Linked DNA regions of Homo sapiens. The protein of the gene in region 2 interacts with the protein of the main gene of each other region in a pairwise test. Each region holds a gene or a part of one and is shown on either strand. Other genes may lie near its edges.

Evidence for each region.
Region 1: the proteins of TRA2B (region 2) and YTHDC1 interact in binary tests that used the Homo sapiens proteins (3 or more experiments, as listed by UniProt).

What each region holds. Positions count from the first base shown.
Region 1 is NC_000004.12:68,346,915-68,354,023, reverse strand, and holds the start of YTHDC1 (YTH domain-containing protein 1), read left to right. Parts: upstream 1-3,933; 5' UTR 3,934-4,270; coding exon 4,271-4,298; intron 4,299-7,109. UniProt on the Homo sapiens protein: Regulator of alternative splicing that specifically recognizes and binds N6-methyladenosine (m6A)-containing RNAs.
Region 2 is NC_000003.12:185,928,015-185,935,295, forward strand, and holds part of TRA2B (transformer-2 protein homolog beta), read right to left. Parts: intron 3,747-7,281; exon of another isoform or gene 3,563-3,746; intron 1-3,562. UniProt on the Homo sapiens protein: Sequence-specific RNA-binding protein which participates in the control of pre-mRNA splicing. Can either activate or suppress exon inclusion. Acts additively with RBMX to promote exon 7 inclusion of the survival motor neuron SMN2.

The DNA.
Region 1 (7,109 bases), on a different chromosome or scaffold from region 2:
TTTCCTTTTTTTATTTTTATTTTTATTTTTATTTGAGACACAGTCTCTCCTCTGCGGCCTAGGCTGGAGTGCAGTGGTGCGATCTCGGGTCACTACAACCTCTGCCTCCCAGGCTCAACCGATTGTCCTGTCAGCCTCCTGAGTAGCTGGGATTACAGGTGCGAGCTACCATGCCAGGCTAACTTTTGTATTTTTAGTAGTGATGGGGTTTCGCCATGTATGCCAAGCTGATCTCCAACTCCTGGCGTCTAGTGATCGGCTTGCCTTGGCCTCCCAAAGTGCCGAGATTACAGGCATAAGCCACTGTGACTGGCCGATTTTCTTCTTTTTTAAGACTGAATAGTATTCAATTGAATGTATAAACCATATGTTTTTTAACCCATTCATCTTTCAACAGACGTATAAGTTGTTTCAAAAGATACCAGGTTTTGGCAAGGATACGGAGAAATTGGAATACTTATACACCATAGCAGGAATGTAAAACGGTGCAGCGACTATATAAAAAAAAAAAAGAGTATGGAAGTTCCTCAAATATAGAACTACCATATGATCCAGCAATTCTATTTCTGTGTATATATCCAAAACAATTGAAATCAGGCTCTCAAAAGAGATATCTGTACTTCCATGTTCATTGTTATATTTTTACAATTATATTGTGATGATCCCTGAGGTCTGAAGAGGATTTTTGGCTGCAAGTTTTTAGTTCAGCATCTTTACCCAGAAAGTTATTTCCACCCATAGCTAGGCCAAAAATCTGAGTCACTCAATACTACATTTTCTGGTTAAGTTCACCAACAATAATTGTTAGAACAATCCATCTTTCCTGAACTACAGAAACAATAAAAATAACAATAGCTCCAGCTTATTGATCACTTAACTGCCTTTAAAAAAATCATTTGAAACATTATAGCAATCCTTTGGAAATTATTTCTAAATTCCCATTTATTAAGATACTAAAGATTAGAAGTTAATTTCTCTAAGGTCTCATGCTATTGAGAGACAGAGCTGGAATTTGTACCCACGTCATTATGACTGCAAAGCTTACTCTCTTAATCACTACACAATAGCTTCAGACCAATGTTCAACATACCTAGAGTTCATCCTTTATAACCTCAACAACTTTTCCTATTTACTAACATGACTGAATTAAAAACCGCATTTTTTTACAGCTGTGCTCTTAGTTTAACATAAACTTACTTCATTTTATTTTTTGAGACAGGGTCCAGCTCTGTTGCCCAGGCTGGAGTGCAGAGGCGTAATCATGTCTCACTGCAGCCTTGACCTCGCCGGCTCAAGCAATCCTCCCACTTTGGCCCCCAGAGAAGTTGGGACTACAGGTGTGCACCACCATGACCAGCTATTTTTTATTTTATTTTCTGCAGAGATGTGGTTTCGCCAGGTTGCCCAAGCTGGTCTTAAAACTCCTGAGCCCAAGTGATCCACCTGCCTTGGCCTCCCAAAGGGCTGGAATTACAGGCATGTGCCACTGCAGCTGGCCCCATAAACTTATTTTAATAACAAAGATGCAAATATGGAATTCTATTTACATTAAAAATTACTCCTTAGTTCTAATAGGACAAATGTAGAATCAGGGAAAATGGCATTTTGATATCTTCTAAATTACTTGGCTGTTTTCTTATGCTCTTCTTTACAAAAAATTATTAAAGGAAACTCAAATATGCAAAAAAGTAGAGAAGAGAGTATAATATTAACTAATGTATGTGGAAATCAAAAGGTATCTGAGGCAGGTCTCAATCAATTTAGAAAGTTTATTTTGCCAAGGTTAAGAAAGAGCCCATGACAGCCTCAAGCTGTCCTGATGACATGTGCCCAAGGTGGTCGTGCACAGCTTCATTTTATACATTTTAGGGATACATGAGACATCAATCACCAGCTTGACTTCTTCCTTTGGCTTAGTGATGTTGGGGAGATTTTCCTTTCACATATGTATCGCCCAGCTTCAACAATTGTTAACTCATGGGTAGACTTGTTTAATCTATTCTCCTACCCATTTCGCTACACCTGCCACCAGTTTGATAAATCCCAGATACCATATAATTTCATTTGCAAATATTTATTACTATTCTTATTATTATTTTGAGACAGAGTCTAGCTCTGTTGTCCTGGTTGGGGTGAAAGTGGCACAATCTCAGCTCACTGCAACCTCCGCCTCCCGGGTTCAAGCAATTCTGCCTTAGCCTCCCGAGTAGCTGGGACTACAGGCGCATGCCATCATGCCTGGCTAATTTTTGTATTTTTAGCAGAGACGGGGTTTCACCATATTGGTCAGGCTGGTCTCAAACTCCTGACCACAGGTGATCCGCCCGCCTGGGCCTCCCGAAGTGCTGGGATTACAGGTATGAGCCACTGCATCTGGCCTGCAAATATTTTCATATGAATCATGAAATTATAAGAAATTCTTTAAAAAGCAAAACTTATTAAAACTAAAAATACAAATAGCAATTCCTCAGGATCATCAGATATTATTTAATGTGTGTGTGTGTGTGTGTTTGTGGCGTGTGCGTGTTCGTATATTCAAATTAGTGTTCAATTAAGGTCCTAGAAATGGGGCCACTCCTGGTGGCTTCACACCTGTAATCCCGCACTTTGGGAGGCCGAGGTGGGAGGATTGCTGGAGCCCAGGATTTAGACACTAGCCTGGGCAAGATGGCTAGGTGTTAGCCATCTTGCGGAGATGGTATATCTCCACAAAAAATGCAAAAAATGTGTCGGATGTGGTGGAGCATGCCTGTAGTTCCAGCTACCTGGGAGGTTAAGGTGGGAGGATCACTTGAGCCCAAGGTTGCAGTGAGCCATGATCACACCACTGCACTCCAGCCTGTGTCACAGTGAGACCACGTCTCAAAAAAAAAGAGGTACCACATTCTAGACTTCTAGACTACTTGTCTTTCCCTGAATATGCAGTTAGTTTGCCAGTTTGTCTTCATATCACGAAGTTACTTAGTTACCTTTTTCAGATTTTTCTTTCCCTTATAACTCAGTTATAGTTCAAGGAAGCAAAATTAGATTGTTTCCGTTGGACAATGAATCTTAAGCAAGTTTCTCTTGCAGATTTTACCACACTATGTAGTTATGTATCTACTGGTCATTTATTCTGTAGTTTCGATTCCTCGATGGTCTGCTTAAATCAATTTTGTGCCCCAGGGCCTTGATAACATGTTTAAATTAGTTATTAATTACAAAGACCTATTATGATACAATTCTTTCCCCAATTAAAAACAAAACTAGGCCGGGCGTGGTAGCTCACGCCTGTAATCCCAGCACTTCATCCTGGCCAACATGGTGAAATCCCGTCTCTACTAAAAATAAAAAAATTAACTGGGCGTGGTGGCGGGCGCCTGTAGTCCCAGCTACTCAGGAGGCAGAGCCAGGAGAATCGCTTGAACCTGGGAGGCGGAGGTTGCGGTGAGCCGAGATCGCGCTGCTGCACTCCAACCTAGCGACAGAGCGAGACTCCGTCTCAAAACAAACAAAAACTAGCAGGCTTTTGTGACTACAAACAAGCTGGTTGCATGCTGCACTGCCTTTGGGTAAGAGTGGAACTCCAACTAAGAAAGTACATCTGGTAAACATAAGGGATTCACCCAGACTTGTCCTAAATAAGACTCCGATTACCCGAACTGAATCAGGAGTCCTTTAGAGCGACTCTAGCTAAGAAGGCCTGTTAGGCCCTGCACTAAGAGTTTCAGGTGGGAAAATTGCGCCATCCAGTTATAGGCCGTACAGCGGGAACTCCATGAACAACCTGGGTAACCTAATCCCTGAATAAGACTCCTTCCAGGTACCAGTGGGCTGAGGGCGGCAGGGCGACGCGCTGACGTCACGTCACGTTCCTTTGCACGTCCCCGCCTCCCCGCCCCTCTCCGCACTGTGACGTTCCCAGAGAGGAACGAAGCGTAAACAGCGCAGGGCATTTCGGGAGCGGGATTGTTTCGCGCAGGAAGCAGGCTCCATTTTAGCGCCGCCCGCCGTCGCCATCTGTTTCCCTTCCCTCCCCCATACCTAGCCCGAGTCTGAGCCCTAACGAGAAGGCTGGGCCTAGGCCGCTGGATGCTGGAGTGAAAGGAAGGGAGAAAGGGAAAAAGCGGGAAGAGTCGAGAAGGCTGAGTGTTAAGAGGCCAAGTGCGACGCGCGTATCCGGGCAGACGGACTGACGGACGGGCCCGTGCTTCTGCCGCGGCTGCGGCGCCCGCGCGAGTCGCGTCTAAGCGGCGGCGGCGGTGGCAGCGGCGGAAACCGAAGGGGAGCCATGGCGGCTGACAGTCGGGAGGAGAAAGGTTAGTGCGGAGAAAGATGACGGGCCGAGGCGAGGCTGGGGCCCGGGAGTGGGGTGATGGAGCAGTGGTCGTCGTTGGGGGTGGGGGGTGGGGGTTGGGGAGGTTAGCTGGCCTCGCGAGGAGCCGGTGGCCCCCACCGAGACACTTAGACTCTGGCGGAGACCAGGCCTGCCCTTTCGTCCTCAGTCTCCATATGGCCTAGCACTTCATCTCAGTAGGGTTTTTCTTTGATGCGGATTTCACGCTTGACTTTCCGTTTAGCTGTCTTGGGCTGAGAGGGGCCCTTTCTGAGTTGCAAGCTCCTAGGTTTATTTCCTGGTAGGATCATGCGGATGTAACGCGTATTTTCAGGACAACCATTTCTGTTAGGCTAAAATTTGAAAACCCCTAATGCCGCGATCAACACTGGTGGTGTGGTAAGTGAGCAAGTTTAGGAAGTGGCACTGGCAGGTTATTAATCTTGAGAAATATCTGCAAATAACTTCTGGCTGTTCCTGTTAAATAGGCAAAGTGAATTACCCGTTTTGTTCCTCGAATACTTATTTTGGAAAAACATAGTACTTGGAAAAAGGAATACTTAGTTTGGAAAGATGACTGTGTGACTTAGGCTGGCAAAGAAATCCTGGGTGCTATTATGTTAGAAAAACCGTGTGTAGCTCCCAGAGGGTACAGTCAGAAACAAATGAATGCAAGTTACAGAGAGTTGGAGGGATAAATTTCAGTGAAATGTAGAGAGAACTGACGTTGCTGTAATGGAAAGATAGTAATACTAAGTTCCCAAGCCCTAGAGATATTAATGTAGGTCCTAGATCAGTGTCTCTCTGGAGAGTGGTCTAGATTAAATGCTGCTTTAAGATCTTTTTCAACCCTAAGATTAACATAATAGTCTTGGAAAGATTATAGTTAAAAATATGACACGGTCGCTGCTCTGTGTCTCACACATCTCTTCTGTGTGCCTAATTGATTTGGGGTTTTTTTGTCGGGGGTTGTTAAGTGGGCTCTAGAGTCAAGTTACATTAGGCGTGTAATCCTTTTTTCTTAATTTTTCTGGTTTCTGCATCAGGAGAGTCTTCATGCTTCAATGAACTGCCCTAGGTTAGGGACAAGCTGGGAAAGTGGAATGGGTGGGAATACTTTTAAGATACTGCCCTTATCCTAAAGTAGTTCTTTGATTAGGTTATAGCAGTTTAATGTTCCATCCTTAAACTAAATGCTAAAAAATCTCCCTGGGCCTTTTTTTTTTTTTTTTTTGAGAAATCCAGAAGTAATGGGAACATAGGATTGTATGGTGTTAGTGAGTAAAGGAAAATGCTTTTAATTAGTTAACTCAGTTATTAAAATACATGATCTTAATTAGTAAGTATTCAGCAAACATCTGATTGTCTTTCTAATTTATGAACTGTGGATATGGGAGTCTGTAGTGGTTGTGGTGGGCGAAATGAACCAAACACAAAAATGAGTAAAATTCAGTACTTCTCAAGAATTCGTTGTCTAAGATGAAAATATTTACAAGTCGTTAATAGAGTAGACGCAGTAATGCACATTGAAGAAGAAAAGTAGATGATTTTAAAAGTTTTGCTTTAGAAATGATTTAGTGATGATAATGCAGTCCAAATACATAAACTGTGTAGCTATTACTGGGAAGTAGTGATATCACCTGTTGTCTATACATAGGATACATTTCCCCACTTTTGAAAAGGTTCTTTGCCTCACATTTGCTTAGTTTTTTTTATTTAATTTTCATAACTTTATTTAAAAACTTGATGTAAGTGCTTTATCTTTATAGTTTAGAACAAAGATTGTTTCTGGACTACACGGAGAACTAGCACTTACCTACTGGAATTGTTTATTTCGTTTTGGGAGAGTTCTAGGTAACCTACAGGTTGTATCATTTACTTGATGATCATCATCACACACTTAGCTTTATAGTTAGAATCAATACTTAGGTCTTCCTCTCTTAAGGAAAAGTGGGACTCTTAAGCGCTTTATTGTCTTACATGAAACAGGAAATTATAAGGATAAACCCTCTAAAAATCTCAGTCATGTCACAAACGTTAAGTTCTTTCTCAAATGATTCCATAAATGGTTTAAGATCTTGATAGCAAATGAGTCTATAAGTTGCAGAAATTGGCAATTATATTAATCACAGAACAGTAAAGACCCTTGTTCATAGAGTTCTTGATGGGGTTTTGCACTTATCTGGGTAATAAAGACATGAATTTCTATAATCTATAACAATGCTTCAATAATACTCATACCTAGAAGCTGCAGCCCATATAAGTGGACAGATTGCTAGCTCCCTGTGATTCCTGTGGTGATAATTTGCCCAAGAAACTGGATTTGAAAGGTGTTGCAATGTTGGTGTTAACTAATATTAAATGCCATTTTTCTATATAAGGAGGAAATATGCATCTTTTCTATTATTGCAAACACCTTGTATAAATTGTATTAATCTTTTACAAAGTTCTCTACAAAGAACAGTTACAAAAGTTTAATCTATCCAAAATGTGTATGAGTAATGTGTAATGAGTTACTGTGTTAAAAATAACGTGTTTTCTAGATTACCAGACTAGAAGCTCCCTGAGTGCCCGGAGTACATCTGTCTTGTTCACTGGGTTCTTTGTATACAGTAATTGTGTTTCAGTACCTTGAGTATTTACCAGGTTGGACTTCATTGACTGACTGGTTAAATGACATGTGCAGTATGATAACGAAAGCTAAGAGTTTCTCAGTTTAAGTTATACAACAGTTCTCCCCTGACCCCCAACCTCTACCAGCCTTATTTTCCTGGTAAATACGTTCTAAGATCCA
Region 2 (7,281 bases):
AGCTTTCAGATAAAATCACAAGAGATTTCCTTGTGTGATACATCTTCAGAGTATTCTGGACATTCTTGAAAGGACAGTAGAGGATTATTCTAAATTACAGCTCAAAACACTTTAGAAGATAGTTTTGTGGTTTACAACATAATGGAGAAAATTTGGATGATCCTTTGATGCTCAGGGAAAACATTTATAATGTAACACAGAATAGACAAATTAAGGTTTGAGGTTTAACACAGAAGGAAAGGCTAACTCATCCAGTAAAATGAGTTCAGGTCTCTAGGCCCCAGACGACTCTAGAAACGTTCAAATGACTTCAAAGCCATTATAAAACATGGTGGGGTGACATGAAATGTGACAGCCTTTCCCCTCTACCTCCCTCCATGACTGACTGTAAAAAGATTAAAAGAAAAATATATGAACAGCTGCCTTTAACATCAAGAAATGGTTAAAGGATGTAGTGATGCTCTGGGGCTTCCAATTAACAACAATCCCTTGGAATTCCCTATCAAGTATTCTGAACGGACACTTCCCTTCTCTCCATGGACAAAGGAGGAAGTCTCAAAAATGAGGGTGTAGTTTTTGCTATTTTTACCACAGGCAAAAATTAACATAGGTGAGAATATAGAAATGGGGAACCCAAAAGTTGCTAAAAGCCTGTTTACTCCAACACTAGAAAGATTACCTCTATGGAAATGAAACAATTTTCTCCAGAAGTGAAAGCAGAATATGGGTGTTTCACAGTAACAGTTAAGACTACCAATAAAGTAACTGTAGTTAACAGAAATCAGTCAGCCCAGGAATCTGAGTATAAAGGAAGAATGGGTCAAGTCAAGATCCTCTTTAAGCTCCTGGCTTTAACAGAAAAACCTTTATTCTAAGCTAAGATGCTTCGGCAGCCTGTCCACTGAGGGAAGAGACAGTACTCCTAACCTAGAAAATAAGACTTAATGAAGTTTTCTCCTTAAAATCTAGCAGATCACAGATACAATATTTCTGAAATCACAGGAGTTTTCACTCAGCCTCCAAAACTAACGGACTATGCAGATATATTTTGTAAGCAATCATTTCTTGGGCCAGGAATAAGGGAAATACCAGAATGCAAAGGCTTCCTTTTCTATACTGACACTTGTTTGGGTAACACCTAAACGTCTCGATCCTTTATCAGGGATATTTTCTTAAAGAAGTTAAAGCTTTCTGAAGTTATTTTGGCCATTTAACTGGCTGGGAAATACATATGGCAAGGGAATAAAACTTGCCTACAAGAAATAAGACCTAAAATTAGCACCCAAATCAAAAGCATAATTAACTTTAAATCTCAATGCAGACAGGTAAAGCTATAAAAACCAGTTGGGGAAGTCCCTAAATCTAAGCATACTTCAAATTCCACTCTCAGGGCTGACATGGTCAACACATTAAAACCACACCAACAGACAGAACTGGACACCACTGCCTCAAAAAAAGGGACCATGAAACTAAAATTAGCATGAATAAAACCAAAATTTCCCTGAAAAAATGCTCAGGAAATCAATCAAGCTCTCACAGACTGGATCTCAGCCACATCCTAATACAAAACCTAAAGGGAATACATCAAGTAAAAATACAACACACTTAGCCTTCCAACAAAATAATCCACATCTCCCTATTCTGAGAACAGCAACCACCTTACAAAAACATATTTGAAAGGACTAACCATCCAATCCCTGTATTATTTTAAAAACTGAATGTGGTTTGTTAGATTTAAAATAGTGGCTCATAAACACTGCATCTCTTAAAACACTGTTTATCATACTAGTTAAGTCTGACTTACTTGACTTAGTCAACCTCAGAAGTTACATGCTTCCTACTCATTTTTTTCCCTTGGCAAAGGTTATCTTCCTGAAACACTGTCATCCCCTTCCTTGTTTTGACTCCCCTTAGCATTAATCAGACCTCTGATTAAGGCAGTCTTTCACACACTGCCTGTTCTCAGGAACAGAAGCCGGCCTCCTCCTCATCTTCCCTATGGCCCGAGGAGGAGACACATTAGGACCCACAGATGCTTTGGTCAAGGGGGAAAACAAAAACAAATGGACACAATGGTCCACTAGCAACGTTTTCTCACCTTAAGTCTATCCAGCTTGGGTCATAACCAGATTCCAAATTGCTTTCTTTCCTTTAGTGGGCTGGGGGTTAAGAGGTCTTTTCCTCTTTTGCACCCCAAGGACCTGTCAGGTTTCTTGATAAAAGAATCCATGGGCTTGGAATTAAAATGTAATATTCATTCACACATTTACCTCAGTTTCCTGCCTGCTCTTTGAGTAATTTGGAACATAAAATAACATTTATCATCATTAGTTTATCTATGGCAAGAAATTTGACAAAGGAATGCAAAACTTCTTAAGAGAAAATTTTCTTCTGCTTGCAAGATATAGAAATAAACAGGCCTGAAAGCATCAGAAAATGGATTCTCCAAGAAATGCCATTTAAGTCACTTTCTCCAAGAGCATGAAGACCTGACAACTCTCAGAGAAAGTTTATTTCAGGAAGACATGTGTGACATGATACCCTTGGCATTCTCAACTGGGTAGAAAACCGCTGGCTGACTACTACTGGGTATTATTTTTGATATGTGTACTTGTCTCATTCAACTGAAAGTAACATTACACCAATCACTTGACCCTTCTACTCAGCTAAAACAAAACACACAGAAAAGAAGGGACAGCTTTTGGGTTGAATTTCTCAATAAGTGCAAGGGATACCAGGTAACCAGAATAAAGCTACTTTGTAACCGTTACCTCTAACATTACAATAGCTAAATGTTGATAGCAAAAAAGGAGAAATAGGAATGAAAGCATCTGCCATTACTGCAATTTGTATTAGCTATCCTGTTCACTTGTGTGACCCACCTCTTCTAAGGGGAAGCTACGGTATTTTATCAGTAATCCTAGTCAATCAGCTGAAATAGGCATTAAACAGAAACAGAATTTGAAAAACCATCCCTGTGTATTTAGCAAATATGCATCTTAAATTTAGGGCCCAAATGCTCACAGATTTCCACTAGTGCCATATGGAAAAAACTAACACACTAATGCCAAAGGGAACTATTTTGTTCAATGCTTTGTTTGGATTTTGGGGGTTTGGTTCCATAACCATCCTGGTGACATTCCTTTGAAAATGGTTTAACAGAAAATATTCTACTATACATTGCTCAGTACTGAAGGAAAGGGGACAGTGCAATCTAAGAGTCCAGGGAGGTGGCAAAGACCACCAGTTCCAACCCTGGAGGTATTCGCTCATGCCCCAGGACCAGCAACATTAGACAGGTAAAGTTTATCTAGAGAGGACAACATGAAGCCCACTGTTACCCATGCTGGAGAGCTCACTGCTGCCTGGTGCTTGACTACTAAATATTTTTTAAAAATTGCATTTCAATCATTTAACTAAGCAGTTAAAATCAGAATTACCTAATTTAAACGTTTCCCCTGGAAGGCACTTCTTTACCCTGTATATATTTTCCTCTATTAAACAAATAATGCATGCATGTTTAGCAAAATATACAGGGACACATAAACAGACTAGTAATTACTTAGCGTAGTGCTTTCTGATTCCAGATTACTTCTTATCTTAACTTCATTTTTATTTCTTTTCTTCATTCTTCCGTTTCAAATTCTGACTTCTTTCATCTTCCCCACTTCACACAAATTGCTCAATATTCTACAAGTGGGACTTCTGGTCTGATAATTAGCATGCATTCTTTCTTTTATTTTTTCAAATTTCAGCTTCACTTATTCCTGAGCTTCAAATACTCATTTATAAAACTTGTCAAATGACGACTTCCGCATTTTCCTTCTTCAACATTAACCTTAATAGAAAAAGAACAGGATGAAGAATATTTTAAAACTCCAGGATAAAATCCAGTGCCAAAACTGAAACTAGAAAAAAAAAATCCCTTTGTTGATTTGGATTAAAAAAAAAAAAAAAGAAACTAGAATATGCAGCTCAAAAAACTGAAAACTACATAGTTTTCTGCTGGTTCTAGAATATATGGTAATCTCATTTCTCTACTCCAAATAGACTTATCATGCTTAAGTTGAATGTGAAGTGCGCCACTGAACATTTACTGTTCATTTAACATTTTAAGAACTATTAGTTACATTTCACACTTCTTATTATATTCAATAGAAAATAGGTTAAGTGTCAAAAGCACACCTCTAGTCAAAAAGTGACACATTAATACATAAGTGCATGAAAGGAAAGCACGGACAATTCATTTGTACAATGACAAACGCTCAGGGTTGAAGAGGTTTACAGTATTGTGACTTGTCTAGATAGGATAAAGAAACGTATTTAGCGTCACACATTTTTGTACTGTATTTAAAGAGCTCTGCAGAAAGACGGTGTCAGGGAACCTGACAATTTGGAGCTTAAGTGTAACCCACCCCCTGGAAAAGCTGCTCTAGTGAGATTTTATAGTATGAATCATAAAAAGACAAAATCAAGTCAACCACCTACAATATGCCAGTAGCTATGAAGGAAAGCAGAACAAACTTGAATCCAACACTGGTATTTTCAAAGAGTTTTGTTGTACATTTTCCCCCTCAATTTAGAAAATATTAAGTCTTCTGGATGTCCAAAGGAGAAATACTACTTTAAAAGGTGGCACTATTTAAATTACAGCTCACCTCCTCAAATAATTAAAAAGATTGAATTTAGTTGATCTGTAAATGTCTGTTGAACATACTAAACAAAATAAAATACTGCCTACATAAAACATGCTAGTTTTTCTTGTTATCCTACATTTCACTTTGATGATCTTTCATTTTATTGTCAATTACTTCCTCTCCTGGTTTTTCCTCCTGAAAAAAATGTAAGGCTTTGTTTAAAAAAATTGCAAGTCTTTATACCTATCTGGGCATAAAGACAACCATCGTTAATCTGGCAAGTGCTGTGATGTCTTTCCTAACAAAAGGATAATTTCCAGTCTAGTTTTAGAGTCAATTATTGTTTATTTAATCCGAAAATTTTTAAATATGTTTTTATTTAAGGGAGTTACAGTAATTGGCTTTCTTTAAATCTCCATCACTAAAATGCAATGGGAAATGTTTTCTGGCAGCACAAATGTAATCATGGAATCAGAATGCCCAAGCAGGTTTCCTTAGGGCCTCCTAAAACTTCGATACAGACAGGGCACTTAGATGCAGAAGATACAAGAATAGAGGCCATAGCTCTAGCTATCACAACTGTTTTCAATGTGGATACCTTCCTGCTGTTACTTCATTACCCCTTCCTAACCTGGTTCCTTCTCTTATAGTCTAAGAACAAAACCATTACTAAATTATTATAAATATTAGATTTAATTCAACTCAGCTAAGTTCAAGTGGCTACTTTATAAAACCAGAAGATCAACTCTTGGGCTAATGTTATGTACATTTAGTTAAGAGACCCTAGTTAGAAATAAACAGAAACTTGTCCTATCAACACAATTTTTGTTAAAATGTTTCTAGGGGATACAACTAGAATCCATTTAACATTAAACATGCACAAACTCATTAAGTTGACTGACAAGGCAATATTTTAAAAATTGGGAGGGACAGGGGCAAAGAAAACCTCATTAATCCTGTTATGGAAAGGTCAATGCTCATATCAATATAATAAGGACTATATTTTTTTCTGGCAGCCAAACTGTCTACCAGAAGAGTAAATGGATAAGTAAATCCTCAAAAACTGGAGAATAGTGTCTGGAAAAAAACATCATCTGAAATTAGTTGTAGGCCTGTGCTTATAAAAACTCTCTTGTAAATATAGCACAGACTGTTAAATTTACATTCATAAAACAGTCAGTACTCCCCAACAAAAGCAAATATAAATATCTTTTGACTTTTCAGAAGACTACCTTTTAACCTAATTTCTAACCACAAAAATTAGAGAAAAAGGGGCCCCTTATCCAAACTGTCAGGTAACAATCTATGTTGATAACATCAATCTCAATGTAACCTCCAAAACCCAATTCAAAGCAAAGATTTTGGGGGAATTTCAAGACTGTAATTTGCTACAGTGAAGAACTTCTTTTGGTTTGCAGTTTAAAAACAAGACTAAGTGATTTCAATATCTAATTCTACATAGCCCACACCCCCAATACTAACCTGGGTCAAAACACTTAAAATTCCTAAACATCAGTCACCATGCCTTGTTAAAAAAACAGTCGCATATGTAAAAACACTGATCAACATAAAATGCTAAGGCTCAAGAAATATACACAGCTGTAGCTCTGCCCTTGTCCTGGGCAAAATAGCTATGAAAGCATTAATATTTACCACCTACGTTCGGATTTTATTGTAGAGAAAGGAGGAAAAAACGCTATGTAAGGCAAATCCCATTAACACTTCCCCCACCACCTGAATTCCTTTTCAACCTTTTGGCAAAACCAGTAGTACTTACCTTATAAAATCACCTGTAATGTCAGCTTGAAAATGTCACGTTCTAGTTCCAGACAATATCCACAATATTAAAGCATTCTTGTTTAAAACCAAGAAAAAAATATTTCAACCGGGTTTCAAGAGACTGATAAACCTAACCAGACTCACAATACAAAACAATTTCCTCCTATTTGACAATTCAATCCTTTTTTAAAGGAAATTTGGTGAGATGGCTGCAATTCTTTAGAAAGAAGTAGATTCAGAGATGTTTCAGTTTTGAAAATTAGAATTTAGAGTTTAGGAGCTAAAACCAAGGAATATAAAAAGACATCCCAAGATTCAGCAGAAGATGAGAAAAACTGCAGAATTTGAAAAGCAGTTTGATGGGTTGGTGTCCAGATGCTGCTATTCATCTCTAATGATAAAGATTACGTGCCTATGTTGCAATCACATCGGCTTTACAAAAATAATAGCCAGTATTCTATCAGAGTATCTGCTGGGTCAAAACATTTTCTTTAACATCTGGTCCATACATCAGTGTCTCCTTAGTTTCTGGATTCCTTTAGTAAAGACTCACTCGTAGAAACTCATTACAATATTGAGAGGCTCAGAACATTACACTGCGTGCAAGACCAACATACAAATCTCACACAACCTATACGCTGTGACCATTATTGGGCTCTAAAGATTACCCTGCACTTCATCAACTTTTTATTCAACTTCTTGTAATTGTGACTTAAAGGCCAGGAGTGCCTCTTTTTACAAAGAAATGGTGCTAGTCAACCCCTTTACAAAATGCAAGCAATTTTGGGGGAAGAGTCTTGAATCCGGAGATGAAAACGAGATCTTACTTTTGAAAGTGGTTTGGCCAGATCAGGTTAAGCCTGCT